2 separate regions of the Homo sapiens genome follow, and region 1 is linked to region 2. Evidence: fine-mapped QTL for protein levels in blood plasma. A gene starts in region 2. The other region holds a variant in brackets. All regions are shown on one strand. Distances are between the middles of the regions.

What was found. A credible set is the group of variants that fine-mapping cannot tell apart. PIP is the posterior inclusion probability: the model's chance that the variant is causal. The UK Biobank Pharma Proteomics Project read protein levels with antibody pairs (Olink). The fine-mapping took linkage between variants from a reference panel, not from the people measured, so its PIPs are less certain.
Region 1: its variant is the best candidate, but not a certain one, in a credible set for the plasma level of the CLEC4G protein (UK Biobank, PIP 0.62).

Annotation. Positions count from the first base shown.
Region 1 is chr19:7,765,216-7,768,233 of GRCh38, reverse strand. CLEC4M (C-type lectin domain family 4 member M) reads right to left here. Exons shown (of 7, transcript NM_014257.5): 3 at 2,966-3,018; 4 at 2,027-2,596; 5 at 1,427-1,578; 6 at 606-718. Among named protein-coding and RNA genes, the nearest start is that of CLEC4M, 3.5 kb to the right of the region's middle. The variant G/C (reference allele first, on the strand shown) is at 1,691.
Region 2 is chr19:7,731,044-7,733,609 of GRCh38, reverse strand. CLEC4G (C-type lectin domain family 4 member G) reads left to right here and starts at 1,500. Exons shown (of 9, transcript NM_198492.4): 1 at 1,500-1,562; 2 at 1,839-1,949; 3 at 2,291-2,344; 4 at 2,522-2,566. The coding sequence starts at 1,508. RefSeq lists a cis regulatory region at 1,426-1,435 and promoters at 1,242-1,505, 1,193-1,505, 899-1,505.

The DNA of each region.
Region 1 (3,018 bases), 34 kb before region 2:
CTTATTGGGCTCTTGCACTCCAAGCCACTATCTTTCTGCCCTAATCACCCCAAGGCCAGGTGTCAGGCCGCTAGGCAGCCTCTATGCCCCAGAGCCCACAAAATGCTTCATATCTGCCCATCTGAAGCCTGCTTGCCTGGCCTTGCCCTTTTCTCCCCATGCAAACCATAATAAAAGCTCTGGCCCACAGTCCCCTCCATGACTTTCCCTCACGACAGACCCTGCTGCTTCCCCAGCGGCCCCCTGCTGTGAAATGTGCGCCCTCTAGGAACCTGTGGGTAGGATAAGCTACTCACTTTGTGTAAATGGCAATTGTCTCCTGAGCTGGTGGCCTTACTAGACTTCAGACTTCCTATTAATACACTGTATTTTAACACACCTACCCACAGGGCAAGCTCCTCCTGCAGCTCTGCTGGTGGAATTCTTGGCACCTTTCATCCTGTCTGGAGGTGGGTATGAAGACCACCTTCCTCAACTCAGTAAAACCCCAGACTCTTAGTCCTATGGGGTCAGGGAGGTTGGGGGGGACCCCCAGGGAAAGCTCAAGTCAGAGTTGCAGGAACCCAGCCCGACTGGATACAGTGTCCCTTTCTCCCAGAATCTACCTGGGTGACAGAGGTGAGCCGTCCACCCATTGCCACGTGCCTTCCTGATTTAGGTCTGAAAGTCCCATCCAGGAGAAGCGGTTACTCCTGGAAGTCTGCAGCTGTAGGAAGTTCTGGAGGGTAGAGGAGGAGTCAGGAGGGAGCTCTGCTTCCCATTTTCCAGGTTCCACCTCCCCGTCTCTTGGCAGAAAGTTCTGCTTTCAAGTTAACCTGCAGTTTTCTGATATAGCAGGTCCTGAGCCTCCTCATGTCTGAGCCCCTCTCACATCTGTATCCCCATGGCATGTGTGTCCTGACATGCAGGCACGCATGCACAGCTGGCCTCTCCTCATGTGCTCCTGTGAATGCTGCATGTTTATCTATTTTGCATGTCCACATGAATTTACTCCTGACTGGGTTTCATGTACTGGAGCCACATTGGACCCACTACTAATTGCTGGTCCAGCACATCTCCTTTCAGCTCTGCACTGAGTGACAGCACATCACAGCTTGAAATCAGCCGCAGTGGAAATATTTACACTGGGGAAATTGGCAAACACAACACATCAGGAATTTTCTCTCCGGAGAGCTGGCCGTTAAACACCTGCAGCATGCTGTGGTGGTTTGCTTACATTTGACGTTTCCCCCAAATATTCACATGTGTTCAGATCTGGTTTGTATTTGCTTGAAGGGTACCTGGGACCCCTTCATTCATATCCTTCTCTTCCCATCTTTCCAAATAGAGCAAAGCCCCTCTTCTGCAAAATCCTCTCTGAGCACCTCCTCCCCAGTTGGCCAGAAGCCATGCCCCAGGCCAGGACGAGGACCCCCACCACGTGTACCTGCTCCTCAGCAGTTTTGATTACGACGAGCTGGGCCCTCACTTCCTGGCAGGCGGTGACGGAGTCGTGCCAGTTCCGCTGGGAGTTAGACATGAAGTAACAGTTTCCTTGGAAGAATGTCCAGTCCTTGGGACAGTGGCGGCACAGGCGTTCTGTTGGGGGAGGCTGGTCAGGGCTGGGCTCAGATTAGGTTGTCCATATTCCCATATCTGCCCAGCCTTCAAGCCCTTGAAAATCAGGGCCCTTCCTTGACTGTCCATGTTG[G/C]GTGGACCGCTTGGAATGGGGAGAGACCATTCCTCTCCCTACTTCCCAAGACTCTCCCTGATCCCCAGGAGAACCCAGGAGTCCTGGCTCCATCTCTTCCAGACTGGGAGAATTAGCAGCTTTAGAGCTCAGAACAGAAGGCAGCGGATTGGTTGAACTGAGTGTCTACTGTGTGCCTGGCCCACTGTGAACACCAAGTGCAATGATCGCAGTTACCCCGTGTTCTCATTTCACAGGGGAGGAAACTGAGGCTCAGGCAGGGTTGGTAACTCAAGTAAAGTCACATCACACAGAGACCATCTCAGGCCCAAGGACCCTTGATGTGCAGGAACTCACCAAATGCAGTCTTCAAATCGGTCAGTTCTTGATAGATTTGCTGCTGCTTGGACTGGTCTGGCAACTCACCCACTGCAGCCTTCAGCTGGGTCAGCTCCTGGTAGATCTCCTGCAGCTTGGATTTCTCTGGCAACTCACCCACTGCAGCCTTCAGCTCCGTCAGCTCCTGGTAGATCTCCTGCAGCTTGGATTTCTCTGGCAACTCACCCACTGCAGCCTTCAGCCGGGTCAGCTCCTGGTAGATCTCCTGCAGCTTGGATTTCTCTGGCAACTCACCCACTGCAGCCTTCAGCCGGGTCAGCTCCTGGTAGATCTCCTGCAGCTTGGATTTCTCTGGCAACTCACCCACTGCAGCCTTCAGCCGGGTCAGCTCCTGGTAGATCTCCTGCAGCTTGGATTTCTCTGGCAACTCACCCACTGCAGCCTTCAGCTGGGTCAGCTCCTGGTAGATCTCCTGCAGCTTGGATTTCTCTGAGAGCTCACCCACTGCAGCTTTAAGCTGGGTCAGGTTCTGGTAGATTGCGTCTTGCTCGGATTGTTCCTGACTTAGGGAGCTGGGGACCTTGGACACTGGGCCAAGAAGAAAAGGAACTGCAATTATTAAACACCTACTGTGTGCCAAGCCCTGAACTGAGCCCCATAGAGACATCATTTGTGAGAGCCAAGGTCTCAGTTAATCCCCTTTGAAGATGAGGAAAACTGACACCTGGAGAAGGCAGCACAGAAGGCCAAGGAGAGCCAGGTTCTTCCCCTCCTCCTCCTCCCTCTCCTGTCCTGCTCTAGAGTGGGGAGGGGCTGTGGGAGAGGCCCCTACAGACCCCCAGGGACAACATCTTGGCTCTCAGTCCCACCTCCCTCCCAGACCTGGCCACTCCAGGCTCTGTTCATAGCCAAAAGGCCAGGCCTGGGGACCCCAGACCCTCAGAACCTGCCCCTGACCTTGGACAAGGATGGCCACCAGGACCCCAGCCAAGAGCATGAAGGAGAGGAGT
Region 2 (2,566 bases):
ATTAAGTGCTCAACATTTCACCTTGTCAGTGAGGCTGGCCCTGGCCACCCTAGCCACTGCCCACTGCCTAGTGCCCATCCCAGTCCTGCCAAGTACTTATCCTACTGGATTTTTTCTTCCCTTAATGTTTTTTCATAGCATTTATGACTTTTGAATAGAGTATACTACGGTTCCCACCTTTTGCACTATGGACATTAGGAGTCAGATCATTCTTTGCTATGGGGGATGTCTTAGGCATTGTAGGGCTTTGCGCAGCATCCCTGGCCTCTACCCACTAGATGCCTGGAGCACACACACACACACACACACACACACACACACATTCTGTGACAACCAAAAGTGTCTCCAGACATAGCCAAATGTCCCCTGGTGGGCGTAATTGCCCCCAGCTGGGAACTACTATGCTATACAACTTATGTTTTCAATTATGTTTATTACGTTGAGTATGGAGTCTGTCTCCCCACACTTCTAGAATATTAGCTCCAAGAAGAGAGGAATTTGCTTATTTTACTCTCTGATGTGGCCCCAGTTCCAAGATCAATGCCTGGCATATGGCAGGTGCTCAATGTTTGTTGAAAGAATGCATGAACACTGAGTGTTTTTGATATGCCTGAAATGGTGCTAGGTAGACATGTATAACCTCATTGTCTTTATTTTTTTATTTTTTCAATTTTTGTTTTCATATATATATATATATATATATTTTTTTTTTTTTTTCAGAAATGAGGGTCTTGTTATATTGCCCAGGCTGGTCTGGTCTGGAACTCCTGGGCTCAGTGATCCTTCCATGTCGGCCTCCCAAAGTGCTGGGATTACAGGTGTGAGCCAGCAAGACTGTCTTGTTTCTTTATCATAGCATCTTTGTGAGAGAGGCCCATCGCTATCTCCTTTACAGTGGGGAAAACTAAGGCTTCTAGAAGCTACCTAGAACCCATACAGTGGTAGAGTCCTGCAGCTCCGCCGGCTACCTCCCTAACAAAACTGTTTGTTCCCTTCTGGTACAGAGGGACTGGATCAAGGTCAGGTTCAAACCCAGCCTCTGCAGGCACCTGCAGGGGAGTTGAGAAGGGACCTGAACTGGCCTGGGGGGCTATGCCTGAGGGGGCTTTCTCAGGAGCCAGCAGGGGTTACAATTTGGTCGGGTTCAGTGTGTCCCTCGCGGGATAAAACCCAGCCCCAGGCCCATAAGAGATGGTGACTAAGCTCCAAAGAGAAGCCTCCAGCCCCAGGCCCATAAGAGATGGTGACTAAGCTCCAAAGAGAAGCCTCCAGCACCAGCCTGGGGATGGAGCTGCAGTGGCCAGAACCAGGAGGCTGGAACCGCCCGGCCTCACTCCAGCCCAGCCCAGCCCAGCCTTGAAAGGGCCCAATCCTGTGATTGGTCCATGGGTTCCCGTTGCCAGGAATTAAGGCCAAGAAAATGGGAAGGAAGGAAGGGAGTGCGTAGGTCCAGTGAGAACAGGCGTGAAATTTATATCTCTGCCCAGGACTGGGTGCCTGCATCGCCATGGACACCACCAGGTACAGCAAGTGGGGCGGCAGCTCCGAGGAGGTCCCCGGAGGTATGAGCAAGGAGACTGCCCCATCCCTGCCCCAGTGTCTGGGGTTTGATGGGGGAGGGGAGGGAAGAGTCGAGACAGGCCAGGGTTGTGGGTGCAGGAGAGACACCACAGGCCATAGAGCCAGTTGGACCAGGGTCCAATTCCAACTCTGCCGCTTAGAAGCTGTGTGACCATAGGCAAGTTACTTAACTTCTCTGAATCTCAGTTTCCTGGGAGTAACTCAGGCCTCCAGGGCTCAGTTCTGGGGGACCCAGCATGCCGTCCTTGTTATGCCAGGGCCCTGGGGACGCTGGGTGCACTGGAGCAGGAGACCCCTCTTCTTGGCCCTGGCTGTCCTGGTCACCACAGTCCTTTGGGCTGTGATTCTGAGTATCCTATTGTCCAAGGGTGAGTGACTCTCAATGGGGAGGTGTTGCATCCGGCCCCCCTGGGGACAGAAAACCCCCACTGCATGGCGCACCAGCTGCATCCTGGGGTCCTGTTCGCGTCTGAGTGTGAGCAGAGTGTGTGTACATCTTTGGGCCGTGTGCACTCACGCGTGTGCACATGGCGTGCTCGTATGTGCGCGAGTCCCCGCGCGTTTGTCTCCCATCGGCGTGTGTGCACATCGTGTGAGCTGTATGCCTGCCCGCCCGCTCCGTGCTCCCGAGTTGGGGGACGCTGCACCCCCCGGGCGAGGGGAGGATTCCCGAGTTCCCGGCCTCGCCTGCAGGAGCCTCTCTCCTCAGCCTCCACGGAGCGCGCGGCGCTGCTTGACGGCCACGACCTGCTGAGGACAAACGGTGTGTGCAGAGCCGGGCGCCTGGGCCCCCGGGGCGTGAGGGGCGGGAGTTTCTGAGACCCCGGAGATGGAGTCTCGAGTGCGTGGGGGCCCTATGGTCCCTGAGGCTGGAAGGGGGTCCCCTGAGTCCTCCCAAGTGACCCGAGGGGCATGCATTTTGGGGCGGGGGTCGTTCCAGCCTCGAAGCAGACGGCGGCGCTGGGTGCCCTGAAGGAGGAGGTCG